Linked DNA regions of Homo sapiens. The protein of the gene in region 3 purifies or fractionates together with the protein of the main gene of each other region. This does not show direct contact. Each region holds a gene or a part of one and is shown on either strand. Other genes may lie near its edges.

Region 1 (4,420 bases), on a different chromosome or scaffold from region 3:
AAGGATTGCTCAGAAAGAGAAAGGACAGGCCGGGCGCGGTGGTTCACACCTGTAATCCCAGCACTTTGGGAGGCCAAGGCAGGTGGATCACGAGGTCAGGAGATTGAGACCATCCTGGCTAACGCGGTGAAACCCCGTCTCTACTAAAAAATAGAAAAAATTAACCAGGCGTGGTGGTAGGCGCCTGTAGTCCCAGCTACTCGGGAGGCTGAGGCAGGAGAATGGCATGAACCCAGGAGGCGGAGCTTGCAGTGAGCCGAGATTGTGCCACTGCACTCCAGCTAGGCAACAGAGCGAGACTCTGTCTCAAAAAAGAAAGAAAAAGAGAAAGGACACCAAATCTGTTTTTATCACTATAGGACACAGTGAACACAGCACGTTGATTATTTGAGAATAATTGTTTACATGTCATTTCCCACTACGAGACTCTGAATATCTTGAGGACTAGAATACCATTTCCTTGGCACCTAGTACGGTGGAAAATAAAGTCATGAATCCTAGCCAGGCATGGTGGTACACACCTATAATCCCAGCTACTTGGGAGGCTGAGGTGGGAGGATCACTTGAGCCCAGGAGTTCGAGACCAGCCTCAGTAACATAGTGAGACCCCATCTCCAAAAAAAAAAAAAAAAGGCCGGGCGTGGTGGCTCACACCTGTAATCCCAGCACTTTGGGAGGCTGAGGCGGGCGGATCACGAGGTCAGCAGTTCCAGACCAGCCTGACCAACATGGTGAAACTCCGTCTCTACTAAAAACACAAAAATTAGCCGGGCATGGTGGCGTGCACCTGTAATCCCAGCTACTCGGGAGGCTGAGGCAGGAAAATTGCTTGAACCTGGGAGGCAGAGATTGCAGTGAGCCAAGATTGCGCCACTGCACTCCAGCCTGGGTGATAGAGCGAGATTCCGTCTCAAAAAAAAAAAAAAATTGTACAGGCTACAGTTGGAAATGCGTTTTTTTTTAAAGACCAGATAATTATTTGAAGTCAAGTACCTACTGTTCTTTGATCAACCCAATACTGAATACCTCCTCTGTGCTGGGTACTACCAGGGATATGAAGATGAACAAGATGCCATCCCCATCCTGGACGTTCCCCTGGGTTGCAGAGGGCAGGGTGGGTGGGTAATGTGTAAACAAGTTGTGAGGGTTCAGTGAACAGAGACAAGGAGCAACATGCATGCTGCAGAGGGTTCCTGAGAGTGCTGCAGAGGAAAGGGACCATACTCAGGAAGACTTCACAGAAGCGACTTTTGAACCCTTCAGGAAGACCAGGAGAGGATCCTCGCCAAGGCAGGGATGAGGAATGCAAGATGGGAGGCTTGGGCCCCAGAGATTCATCAGTGATATTAAAGTGTTGGCCCAGATGGGGTGGTGGGTAGATGGAAAATAAAGATGGACCTCCCCGCCTCCTCCCCACCATCCACCATCAGAAGACTGGAGGTATAGAAACAAGTTAGGAGGCTGCTCTGTCCCAATGAGAAATGCAGGATGCCTGAGATGCCTGAGCCGCAGCAGTGGAGGCACTCAGGGCACAGCCAAGAGATGAGGAGGATTTACTGACAAAAATGCCAGTCACCAAGAGAGAGACAAATCAGACACCTGTTCTCAGTGCTGTGATGGGCTGGGTCTGGTAGGAGGCAAAGGATGTGTTAATTATGATACAAGTAGCAAGTGTTGGATGTCATGAGAAATAGCTAAAAGGGCTCAAACCCATCATTGTTTGGCCCAGGAACATATGAAAACATAGGTACTTGTTTTTCTAAAGTGTTTTGCTTTTTCAGGATGGGATAAATGCCATAACTAATCCATAACTAAGAGTATCTGTTCAGTGTCACTACAGTTCTGTTCCTTTTTTCTTTTTTTATGCAGATTACCCCACATTCCTAAGCATGTTCATATCTCAAGCTTTTTATGATCATTTCACATAAAATATTATTCAATTGAGCAAGCTGAGACAAGGCAAGTTGTTCAAGAATGAATGTGATCAAGTCCAGGAGGAAGCCATACCTCTCACTTGTCCCTGCCTTGAAGCAGTAGCAGAACTTGCCACCCAACTTGAGCAGTGTGCCACTGCCAGCCAGCTCTTTGGCTCAGGTTAACTGCAGAATAATTTTCCGTGCTGAGAATATTTGTTAAATATCACCATCTCTTCATTATGCTTCTGTAATTCTACCTGCCTGGCAGCTGTCTGCAGGCCAATATGTCAGGTGATAAGCTACCAACTGCCATGGAGCTGCCCCTTTAGTTATCTTTGATTTGGGGAAAACTGCAAAGTGATATTTTTACCATTTTAGTATGGGTCTAAGCAAGGGGTGTGTGTGCATGTGTGTGTGTGTTGTATGTTTTAATGTATTCATACACTAATCATGGGCCTTTTTCTTAGTATTCTTACATTCCCGTGCATGTGACTTTCCAGTTATGTAACTTGCTGTTAGAAAACTTTAGATTCCCTTGGTTCCTGAAGTACACAGAAGTGGTGTTCATTTTCAGAGTAGAAACTGATGTGCCTTTCAGAATGGCTGACAAATTTTGGGGGTAAGAAAGTATGTTACATGTCCTTAGAGAGAGAGAAAGAATTGATTTATGAAATAGTACTTTTAAATTTTTCTTCAGATTTGGTATCATTACCGTAATTGGTAGACAGTAAAACCTGTCACTTGAAAATGAGCATCTGTCACGTTACCATTAATAACGTTAACGTACGCTAGGCCTAAGACTCCCTGCAGTGACCCATCTTGTTTGAATGAATTGTCTTTGTGTGTAGATAATAAACCTGCTGAAGAAGTTGTCCCGGCCAGCATTCTTCTGCATTCCAACATTGCCAGCCTTGTCAAAGACCAGGTGATTCTGAAAGTGGACTCCGGAGACTCGGAAGTGGTCGATGGGCTTATGCTCCAGCACATCACTCTCCTCATGTGCTCAGCTTATAGGAACCAGCTGCTCAACATTTTTGTGCGCCCATCCTTAGTAGCAGTAGCATTGCAGATGACACCAGGGTTCAGGAAAGGTAATTTTCAGGAATGCAATCTTGACTTTTAGAAGAGGTCTGGCCATTCCATTCCATTTAGGGAGCCACATTTGAAGCCTTGTAATGTTCAGCCTCACGCCGGTGAAGAGCAGGCCTATCACTGAGAAAAAGTTAGCTTTGTTCCCCAAATACTTGTTCATCTGCTTCGAATTTTGGAATTGGGAGGACCTGGAAATAATCTAAACCTTTCCTTCTATAAATATGGAAAATGAGGCCTAGAAAGTTGCATAATTACTGAGAGAAGGATCTGGCATTTGAGTACAGTTCTCCACTTCCTGGTCTGCGGCACTGTTTTGGCTGTGCCAGCTCCCTGATCCAGCAAAGGCAGGTGGGCAGATGAGCAGTCAGCAGTCGATGAGTACTCCCGAGATGCATGGTCTTGTTCTAATTGTATCAGGAGTATAAAAATGAGTACAGTACACGTCATGTTCACAGGAGCCTGTAGTCAAGGCCAGGGGGTTCTGTCAAGGCCCTATGTTAGAATTACTAGGGGAGTGAGCCCCACCCCAAAGTTTCTTCAGTTGACCTGGGGTATGGGCCAGCCATTGGTGTTTGGTTTTGGTTTTGGTTTTGGCTTTTCAAAGCTCCACAGTGATTCTAAGGAAAAGTGCTACAGATATAATAAAGATACCAGGAAATATGAATATAGAGGGAAATTAAGAAATCAGTACCTTTCCTTCCCTACTAGGGAGCCATGGGGTAGGGAAAAATGAAGCGTCCTGGCCTCTAAGGACTGTGATGTCTCGCTGAGTAGAAGCCTGGTTGTAGGTTAGAGTCAATCATTTAAAAACTATGCTAGGGCCGGGCGCAGTGGCTCACGCCTGTAATCCCAGCACTTTGGTAGGCCGTGGTAGGAGGATCACGATGTCAGGAGTTCGAGTCCAGCCTGACCAACATGGTGAAACCCTGTCTCTATTAAAATACAAAAATTAGCTGGGCATGGCGGCGAGTGCCTGTAATCCCAGCTACTTGGGAGGCTGAGGCTGGAGAATCGCTTGACCCCAGGAGGCGGAGGTTGCAGTGAGCCAAGATTGCACCATTGCACTCCAGCCTGGGTGACAGAGCGAGACTCCATCTCAAAAAACAAAAAACAAACTATGCTAGACCGTAGTTTGCTCTGTGGGTAAGATTTGGGTTTAATTTAGCTTCCCTCAGGGGACTTAATTCTTGTCCCTGTTACATGAATAAAATATGCCTTTGAAATACATTTTGTGATAGTAAGGACTTCCTGGTACTCCCTTAAAGTTTAAAGGGCAATGTTGTAATTTTACATGATGCATTTATTTCCAGAGGATGTCTACAGTTGCTTTCGCTTCCTACGTGATGTTTTTGCAGATGAGTTCATCTTCCTTCCAGGAAACACACTAAAGGTAAAGTGCTTACAACAAAGAG
Region 2 (4,420 bases), on a different chromosome or scaffold from region 3:
GCATTCACTGAGGATGGTATTACCCAGTCGACGATTGGCACTTCTGGAACGCAGAAGAATCCTGGCCCACCAGCTGGGTGACTTTATCATTGTATACAACAAGGTAAGTCTTTTTCTGTTAGTCTTGTGCTTTGGATTGCCATACACTGTCAGAAACAGACTAGATAGAAGCCTCTGTCCAACTGGATGGAGACACTCTTCTTCTGTTCTCTGGCATCACCATCCCTTATGTATTACTGTTAGGGGAAGCAGGACCCCACACCTTAACTCAGCTGGTCTGAAAAACTATTTATTACTTCTGAAGGCCCAGTGGCCATAGTTAATTCTTAATTCTTATCAAAAGGCATATTCCTTTTGAGCACTGAGATGAATCCTAGGCTGTGTGAGTCTGCACGGTTGTTAGTGCCTGTAGAAAGTGGCAAATTGACCATTGGAGAACAAATTTGAGCTGTGGATTGAATGTAATGACATATTCTTTCTTGAACGAGTTATACTTTCATCTTTAAAACATTTTATACATTACAGAATTTTACAGTCAAGCCCAAGAAATATACTATTTAATTAGAATATTTTGCAAAGCATTCTATATCCCGGGATCTCAGAATGCATTAAAAATATCATTTTGGGTGTTTGGGTTTGGGAGGTTTGGTCAGTTTGCAGAAGGAAAAGCTGATAGAAATTTAAATGGCTTTTCTAAAGTTGCATGGAATTGTTGGTAGAATATCAGTGCACCAAACTCATAGCCACAATTTACTCCAGATCTGTTGAGAATTTTGTTATGTCTTATATAAGTGAAGAATTTATTCAGTATGGAAGCTGGTATAAGAGTACCTTCCAAGATCTGTCTTTCCTCTCCTAATTGGAACAAAATACTGTGTCTCTGTTGTCATATTGTTAAAGCTACAAGGGTGATCATAGATATTACTAAGCTACTATAAAAACCTCTTTAATCAATGGGCTGTGTAAGTAGAAAGTAAAAACATGATTAAAATTTACATTCATTCTGCAACTTTTACTTGGGAATTTCAAAATGTTTTACAAAATCATGGCCAAAAGTAATATGTCAAATTTATAGGTGGCAAAAGTACATACAAGAATTAAATGTCTTTACTATAAGGACAGATTAACTCAAGGCTATTGAAACTACATGATGAAGTGCATATTTATTAGGAGTCAGTTTTATCTTGTTGTTTTTCTGTGGGGTTTGGGCACTGGGTAGGAAACAGAACAAATGGCTGAAAAGAAATCAAAGAAGAAAGTTGAGGAAGAAGAGGAAGATGGGGTGAATATGGAAAACTTTCAGGAGTTCATCAGACAAGCAAGGTAGTAGACATTCTTGATTGATAAAAGCTGTCTTATTCCATCTTCCATAATGCTCATTGAGTACCCAGCATTCCTTTGTTTCTGATACATGGATGTGAATGAAATCACTCTTAAAGCCGGGCACAGTGGCACACCCCTTTAGTTCTAGTTACTTGGGAGCCTGAGGCAGGAGGATTGCTTGAGCCCAGGAATTCGAGGCCAGCTTGGGCAACATAGTGAGACCCTGTCTCTAAATGATGAAAAAAGAAATCATTCTCAGAAGGAGAAAAGATTGTATGGGTTTGGCCTCTCCATATCTTAGCCAATTATGTTGCTATTTTCATGGCTTCAGTTATCAAAACATTACTGCTGGGTAGCAGGGCTGTAGTTCTCGACAGCCTTCACAGTGCACATCTCTTGAAGTCACATGAGAGCTCTTTGGAAAGTTGAAATTAGAGGCATCTCATATTTACTGGGTCTGAATTTGTCCCTGACCTACTCATGGAGTAGAAATGACCACATTTTGCCTACATTGAGTAGGCTGAGGAATTTGCAATTTCTCCACTCTGTGAGGGTTACACCTAATTTATATAAAATAGAACAAGTTCTTCATGCTTAGGGTTAGCCTTTAGAAATGGAAAATCTCGATATTCATCTCTCTATCTTGATAAAAGTCAGCCAGGCCATTTTGTCCATTTATGTTGGCTTACAAAGGAAGAGATAACAAAGGCACTTAATTTTAAATCTTGTAAAACTTACACTGGAGGATTTTTTTCTAAATAGAGAGATGTGCAAAACCATTAAAATAAAATAGGATAAAAAAACAGTAAGCCCCATTACTTAGGCTTCAACTGTCAAAGTCACAAATAGGGAGAAAATCAGTAGAAAATCTACCCTATGTTGATTGGTGAAGTTAAATGAGGTAGGGGTAGGAGCTTATCAATCACCAGCATAATATAATCTTTGTTTAATACCCTTTTCAGACCTCACTATCATGCGCTTTACAGCAAACAAATATATCATTTTGTAGGAGTCCATAATTGTATGGTGTTATTTGTTGACATTTTTGAGTCTTAAGTAATATGATTGATAAAACAGGTATAGTAACAGCTTCTCTCATCAACGTTATAAAAACAGAAAAGGATTAAAAAAAAAAAACAAAAAACAGATTGTGTCCAGAAAATAGCTCTACTTTTTAAAGCTAAAAGATAATTTTCAGGTTTATCCTAAGGATCTTCAAAATCCCTAAAATATATATTTTAAAAAACCCAGCCTTTAAAAGAACACTATTTCCCAAGCAAGTCTAACTGGACACTAAAAATGAATTATAACATATTGTTAACTAATTATATAGATGTGGAGATAAAATGCATTGGAACATAATTACTTCTGATTGGGGATTAGGTGTTGATTGTTGGGAAATAATGTGGTGACGTCAGTTCTTCTTTTATTAAGTTTGGTTTGAGTACATGGATACTTTTCAGGGCTGGTAAATTCAAATACTTGCTGGAGTCAGACAGGAAAACATAAATTATGAAGTGGGCAAAGGATAAGACAGATATAAAGCAGCTTGTATTTTGACCAACCGTAACCTTTGCCTTTCAGTATTCTGTGAAGGGCCAAATAAAACACACTGACAGGCAAAGGTTTGCACCCTCAGCTGTAGATCTTTGATAGTCACTTGAGAGACTTATCTTGTGGCATTTGGCTACTTTGAAGACTTTAGGGTTTACGCTGAGATTCATAAAGGTGGTTTCTAGGTTCTGGTTAGAGTGTGTTTTCTGAAGATGGGATATAGGTTCTCTGTGATAATGCAGGCATTCTTCACTTAATAGCCACTTTCCTAGAACGTAGCCAAGCTTCAAGAAAAAGAAAAAGAAAAGAAAAAGGCCATTGAGAAGCTGCTACAGATGTTAAAGTCCATGTGTGATATGTTCAATAGAAGAATCCACTAGCCTCTCATCTGTTTCCTTATACTTTCTATTTTGTGGCTGTTCATAAAGAGCATATAATTTCAGTAATTTGAAGTGATTTAGAGATGATATACTTTAGTCTCGTGCATTATATAGATGGTTAGGGAATTCTATGGTTATTGGTGGATTTCCTTATTTCTGACATAGGCAATGAAAATGACAAGTGGCTCTTTAAGTGAAGGTACTTCAATTATCTAGAAGTGAGCTGAACAAACTGTAAAGGTCCAGATAATAAACATTTCAGACTCTGTGGGCTACATATGGGTGGTGGTGGTGGTGGTTGTTGTCTTGTTATTGTTGTTTTGCATATTCTTTAAAAATATTTTAAAAAATTTTTGGCTGGGGGCCATAAAAACAAGTCGCTGGTCAGGTTTAGCCCACAGTGTGTAGTTGTTTGCCGCCTGTTCTAGAATGTGGCTGTCCAATAGAACTTTTTGTGGGTGACTACTGAACACTTGAAGTGTGGCTAGTTTACGGAAAAGAATCTTTAATTTAATTTGAATTTAAATAGTCACATATGACTGAGTAGTCGCTACCATATTAGACAGTGTAGATCTAGAAAATTCACTGCGGGATGAATAAAGCCTTATGCTTTAAATTTTTTAGATTGCTTTCATTTATATTTTATTTTAACCACCTATTAATAGGGAATTTTCAGCTTGTGCTTTTCATTTTTCCCTTTTCCAGCTTGCTCTGTTTTCATAATAAAATCTGGTGGAAAGATTTTCCAGAATAGCTTCCTGTCTGACCATACTTTTTCTCCTCATTTCAGTGAGGCTGAACTGGAGGAGGTGTTGACTTTTTATACCCAAAAGAACAAGTCTGCTAGTGTCTTCCTGGGGACTCACTCTAAAATTTCTAAGAACAACAACAATTATTCTGATAGTGGGGCAAAAGGTGGTAAGTATACTGGTTAATGAACGAAAAATAAGAAGAACAAGTGAAGAAATGAGAAATGCAAAGGAGAATGAGGAATAATGTGTTGGCTAAGCACTAATAGTCCCCAAGGTAATGAGACTTTGCAGCTTGGGGAGGGAGTGGAGAATGGGGGACAGTACTTTTTGTCCTAAAAGCAGAAGAAGGGCATGGTCTGATTTTTTTTCAAGATAATTAACAGCAGAGAGATTTTCAAGAAAAGCTAATAA
Region 3 (5,653 bases):
TTATTTTTGAGAAGGAGTCTCACTCTGTCACCCAGGCTGGAGTGCAGAGGCGTGATCTCAGCTCATGGCAACCTCCACCTTCCAGGTTCAAGCGATTCTCTCCTGCCTCAGCCTCCCAAGTAGCTGGGACTACAGTTGTGTGCCACCATGTCCGGCTAATTTTTCTTTTCTTTTTTTTTTTTGAGACGGAGTCTCGCTCTGTCCCCCACGCTGGAGTGCAGTGGCGTGATCTCGGCTCACTGCAAGCTCCACCTCCCGGGTTCACGCCATTCTCCCGCCTCAGCCTCCTGAGTAGTGGGGACTACAGGCGCCCGCCACCACGCCTGGCTAATTTTGTATTTTTAGTAGAGACGGGGTTTCCCCGCGTTGGTCAGGCTGGTCTCCAACTCCCGACCTCAGGTGATCCGCCCACCTCAGCCTCCCAAAGTGCTGGGATTACAGGCATGAGCCACTGTGCCCGGGTGTGCATTTTCCAAATTAATATTTTAATAATAAGCGCAGGCCAGGCCGGGCGCGGTGGCTCACGCCTGTAATCCCAGCACTTTGGGAGGCAGAGGCGAGCGGATCACAAGGTCAGGAGTTCGAGACCAGCCTGGCCAACATGGTGAAACACTGTCTCTACTAAAAAAAAAGAAAAAAAATACAAAAGTTAGCCAGGCATGGTGGCGTGCACCTGTAATCCCAGCTACACAGGAGGCTGAGGCAGGAGAATTGCTTGAACCCAGGAGGCGAAGGTTGAAGTGAGCCGAGATCACGCCACTGCACTCCAGCCTGGGTGACGCAGCAAGACTCTGTCTCAAAAAAATAAATAAATAAAAAATAAGCACAGGCCAGGTGTGGTGGCTCACGCCTGTAATCCCAGCACTTTGGGAGGCCGAGGTGGGCGGACCTCCTGAGGTCCGGAGTTCAGACCAGCCTGGCCAACGTGGGGAAACCCCGTCCCTATTAAAAATGCAAAATTAGCCAGGCGTGGTGGCACACTCCTGTAATCCCAGCTACTCAGGAGGCTGAGGCAAGAGAATCACTTGAATCTGGGAGGCGGAGGTTGCAGTGAGCTGAGATGGCGCCACTGCACTCTAGCCTGGGCAACAAGAGCGAAACTCTGTCTCAAAGAAAAAATAAAATAAAATAAAATAAAATAAAAATAAAATGGCTGGGTGCGGTGGCTCACGCCTGTAATCCCAGCACTTTGGGAGGCTGAGGCGGGTGATCGCCTGAGGTCGGGAGTTCAAGACCAGCCTGACCAACATGGAGAAACCCCGTTTCTACTAAAAATACAAAATTGGCCAGGTGTGGTGGCACATGCCTGTAATCCCAGCTACTTGGGAGGCTGAGGCAGGAGAATCACTTGAACCCGGGAGGTGGAGGTTGCAGTGAGCAGAGATCTTGCCATTGCACTCCAGACTGGGCAACAAGAGCAAAACTCCATCTCAAAAAAATAAATAAATAAAAATAAAAATAAAAAATATTAATTTGGAAAATACAGAAAAATAGAGAAAAGTATTCAGTCTCACCACCCAAAGACAAGTACTAATTCTAATCCTACTCTTTTATTGATACTGTGTTTTTTCATTCCAATCTTTTTTGTTTTGATTTTTCTCTCATATATTCTTAGTAATTTTTTTCTTTCTTTCCTTTTTTTTTTTTTGAGACAGGGTCTCACTTTGTCACCCAGGTGGGAGTGCAGTGGCACGATTATAGCTCACTGCAATTTCAACCTCTCAGGCTTAAGCGATCCCCCTACCTTAGCCTCCCAAGTAGCTGGGCTACAGGCGCACACCACTGTGCCTGGCTAAATTTTGTATTTTTTTGTAGAGATGGGGTTTTGCCATGTTGCCCAGGCTTGAACTCCTTGGCTCAAGCAATCCACCCACGTTGGCTTCCCAAAGGCTGGGGTTACAGGAATGAGCCACCATACTTGGTAATAATATTCTTAAACATTATTTATGTTGTGTGTATGTGTGTGTGTTTTGAGATGGAGTCTTGCTCTGTCACCCAGGCTGGAGTGCAGTGGCATAATCTTGGCTCACTGCAACCTCCACCTCCCGGGTTCAAGTGATTCTTCTGCCTCAGCCTCCCGAGTAGCTGGACTACAGGCGCCTGCCACCATGCCTGGCTAATTTTTGTATTTTTAGTAGACAGACAGGGTTTTGCCAGCTTGTCTAGGCTGATCTCGAACTCCTGACCTCAGGTGATCTGCCCACTTCAGCCTCCCAAAGCGCTAGAGACATGAGCCACCACGCCAGCCTCAACTGTTGTATTAAATTCCACATTCCATAGGTGTTACCAAAATAGTCTCAGTAGTCTTAAAATATCTTTATGCTTATGAACTCCACCCTTGTATCCAAAAGAACTGGTAGCTGGAGAACAAGTTTTATTCCGCCACCCAGCAGGAAGCCTTGGCATCCTGTGGCCCAGTGCATGGTTTTGGGGGATGAAGCTGACTCTGGTTCTTCATGTCCCCAGGTGGGAAGAAAAGATCCCTCTGGCAAAAACCACCCTGGAGAAGACCTGGCTGTTCCACGAGATCGGCCGCTGCTACTTGGAGCTGGACCAGGCCTGGCAGGCCCAGAATTATGGCGAGAAGTCCCAGCAGTGTGCCGAGGAGGAAGGGGACATTGAGTGGCAACTGAATGCCAGTGTTCTGGTGGCCCAGGCACAAGGTATGGGCTCAGAGATGACCACCCTACCTTTTCCAGCCTTCAGGCCCAGCTCACACCAGGGCTAGGAGTCTTGTGGACTGAGTTTACCATCCCAGTGTTTCTCCTTCCCAGATTATTCTGAGAGTGGGGATAAGCCACTCTATTTTGACCAGCACGTGGTAAGTGCTTTCATTAAGCAAAGCTTGGTTAGAGCTTGGGGTACCTTGAGCCTACCTCTGCCCTTGAGGAGGTCAGCTGCAGACCCACACAGCATCGTGTCATCCTCACAACAGTGCCCATGTATTGAGCCACTTTCCTTCTGCCTTGGTACTTTTTTTTTGTTTTGTTTCATTTTGTTTTTGAGACAGAGTTTCGCTTTTGTTGCCCAGGCTGGAGTGCAGTGGTGCGATCTCGGCTCATTGCAACCTCTGCCTCCCAGGTTCAAGTGATTCTTCTGCTTCAGGCTCCCAAGTAGCTGGGATTACAGGCGTCTGCCACCACACCTGGCTAATTTTTTGTGTTTTTAGTAGAGACAGGGTTTCACCATGTTGGCTAGGCTGGTCTCAAATTCCTGACCTCAGGTGATCCAAACGCCTCGGCCTCCCAAAGTGCTAGGATTACAGGCGTGAGCCACCATGCCCGGCCCTGTTTTGTTTTTTGAGACGAAGTCTCACTATGTTACCCAGGCTAGACTGCAGGGGCACGATCTCAGCTCACTGCAACCTTGGCCTCCCGGGTTCAAGCGATTCTCCTGCTTCAGCCTCCAGGGTAGCTGGGATTACAGGCGCGCACCACCACACCCGGCTAATTTTTGTATTTTTAGTAGAGACGGGGTTTCACCACGTTGGCCAGGCTGTTCTCGAACTCCTGACCTCAGGTGATCCACCCGCCTCAGCTTCCCAAAGTGCTGGGATTACAGGCATGAGCCACCACACCCAGCCAGCATTCTTGTATTGAATCATTATGATGTAGGTAGGCATTATCATCCTTATTTTAGAGATAGGGAAACTGAGGCACAGAGAGGTCCAGTAGACTCCCCAAGTCCTATGAGGGAAGCTTTTTTTTTTTTTTTGAGATGGAGACTCACTCTGTCACCCAGGCTGGAGTGCAGTGGCGCGATCTCAGCTCACTGCAACCTCTGCCTCATGGGTTCAAATGATTCCTGTGCCTCAGCTTCCTGAGTAGCTGGGATTACATGTGTGCACCATAATACCCAGCTATGTCTTTGTATTTTTAGAGATGCAGTTTCACTATGTTGGCTGGTTTCAAACTCCTGGCCTCAAGTGATCCACCCACCTCAGCCTACCAAAGTGCTGGGATTACAGGTGTGAGCCACTGCGCCTGGCCGAGGAAACCTTTTATTTTTTAATTTATTTTATTTCTTTATTTTTATTTTTTGAGATGGAGTCTTGCTGTGTCACCCAGGCTGGAGTGTAGTGACACAATCTCGGCTCACTGCAACCTCTGTCTCCTGGGTTCAAGCGATTCTGCTGTCTCAGCCTTCCGAGTAGCTGGGATTACAGGCGTGTGCCACCACTCCTGGCTAATTTTTTTGTATTTTTGTAGAGATGGGGTTTCACCATGTTGGTCAGGCTGGTCTCGAACTTCTGACCTCAAGTGATCTGCCCGCCTCTGCCTCCCAAAGTGCTGGGATTATAGGCATAAGCCACTGCACCCGGCCTCCAAGGGAACCTTTCAGAGTGATGGAAATGTTCTAAAATGGGATTGTGGTGGCCACTGTACAACTCTGTAAATTTTCTTCTTTTTTTTTTTTGAGATGGAGTCTTGCTCTGTCACCTAGACTGGAGTGCAGTGGCACAATCTTGGCTCACTGCAACCTCCGCCTCCCGTGTTCAAGCTATTCTCCTGCCTCAGTCTCCTGAGTAGCTGGGATTACAGGCGTGCGCCACCACACCTGGCTAATGTTTGTATTTTTAGTAGAGACGGGATTTCACCAAGTTGGTCAGGCTGGTCTTGAACTCTTGACCTCGTGATCTGCCTGCTTCAGCCTCCCAAAGTGCTGGGATTACAGTTGTGAGCCACTGTGCCCGGCCTCAACTCTGTAAATTTTCTCAAAATCATTGAACTTTATCCTTACAAGCCGGTGAACTTTATTTATTTATTTTTTTGAGAAGGCGTCTCACTCTGTTGCCCAGTCTGGAATGCAGTGGCGCGATCTTGGCTCACTGCAACCTCCGCCTCCCGGGGTCAAGTGGTTTTCCTGTCACATTGAGATAACTTTAAATTACATACTCAGTTAAAAATTAGGCTGGGGACAGGCACGGTGGCTCACGCATGTAATCCCAGCACTTTGGGAGGCCGAGGCAGGTGGATCACCTGAGGTCAGGAGTTTGGTACCAGCCTGACCAACAAGGTGAAACCTCGTCTCTACTAAAAATACAAAAATTAGCCAGGTGTGGTGGCACACGCCTGTAGTCCCAACTACTCGGGAGGCTGAGGCAGGAGAACTGCTTGAATCCAGGAGGCGGAGGTTGCAGTGAGCCCAGATTGCGCCACTGTGCTCCAGTCTGGGTGAAAGAACGAGACTCTGTCGCAAAAAAAAAAAAAAAAAAAAAAAAAAAAATTAGCCTGGCCATAGTGGCTAACACTTATAATCCTGGCACTTTGGGAAGCCAAGGTGGGAGGATCGGTTGAGCCCAGGAGTTTGATACCAGCCTGGGCAACATAGGGAGATCTCATCTTTACAAAAAATAAGGCAACTTAAAGAGACCTCATCTCTACAAAAAATAAAAATTAGGGCGGGGCACAGTGGCCCATGCCTGTAATCCCTGCACTTTGGGAGGCCAAGGTGGGCAGATCACAAGGTCAGGAGTTCAAGACCAGCCTGGCCAACATAGTGAAACCCCATCTCTACTAAAAATCCAAAAAATTAGCCGGGCGTGGTGGTGCATGCTTGTAATCCAAGCTGCTCGGGAGGCTGAGGCAGGAGAGTTGCTTGAACCTGGGAGGCGGAGGTTGCAGTGAGCTGAGATCGTGCCACTGCACTCCAG

The links. Proteins that work in one complex are often made in the same cells at the same time.
Region 1: the proteins of ODAD4 (region 3) and GNPAT purify together in Homo sapiens (affinity purification with mass spectrometry; 2 studies listed by BioGRID and IntAct, with this or other methods). This does not show direct contact.
Region 2: the proteins of ODAD4 (region 3) and TTLL5 purify together in Homo sapiens (affinity purification with mass spectrometry; 2 studies listed by BioGRID and IntAct, with this or other methods). This does not show direct contact.

What each region holds. Positions count from the first base shown.
Region 1 is NC_000001.11:231,267,994-231,272,413, forward strand, and holds part of GNPAT (dihydroxyacetone phosphate acyltransferase), read left to right. Parts: intron 1-2,764; coding exon 2,765-3,007; intron 3,008-4,318; coding exon 4,319-4,398; intron 4,399-4,420. UniProt on the Homo sapiens protein: Dihydroxyacetonephosphate acyltransferase catalyzing the first step in the biosynthesis of plasmalogens, a subset of phospholipids that differ from other glycerolipids by having an alkyl chain attached through a vinyl ether linkage at the sn-1 position of the glycerol backbone, and which unique physical properties have an impact on various aspects of cell signaling and membrane biology.
Region 2 is NC_000014.9:75,775,528-75,779,947, forward strand, and holds part of TTLL5 (tubulin polyglutamylase TTLL5), read left to right. Parts: coding exon 1-103; intron 104-1,219; coding exon 1,220-1,323; intron 1,324-4,047; coding exon 4,048-4,175; intron 4,176-4,420. UniProt on the Homo sapiens protein: Polyglutamylase which modifies tubulin, generating polyglutamate side chains on the gamma-carboxyl group of specific glutamate residues within the C-terminal tail of tubulin.
Region 3 is NC_000017.11:41,946,687-41,952,339, forward strand, and holds part of ODAD4 (outer dynein arm-docking complex subunit 4), read left to right. Parts: intron 1-2,466; coding exon 2,467-2,663; intron 2,664-5,653. UniProt on the Homo sapiens protein: Component of the outer dynein arm-docking complex (ODA-DC) that mediates outer dynein arms (ODA) binding onto the doublet microtubule. Plays an essential role for the assembly of ODA-DC and for the docking of ODA in ciliary axoneme.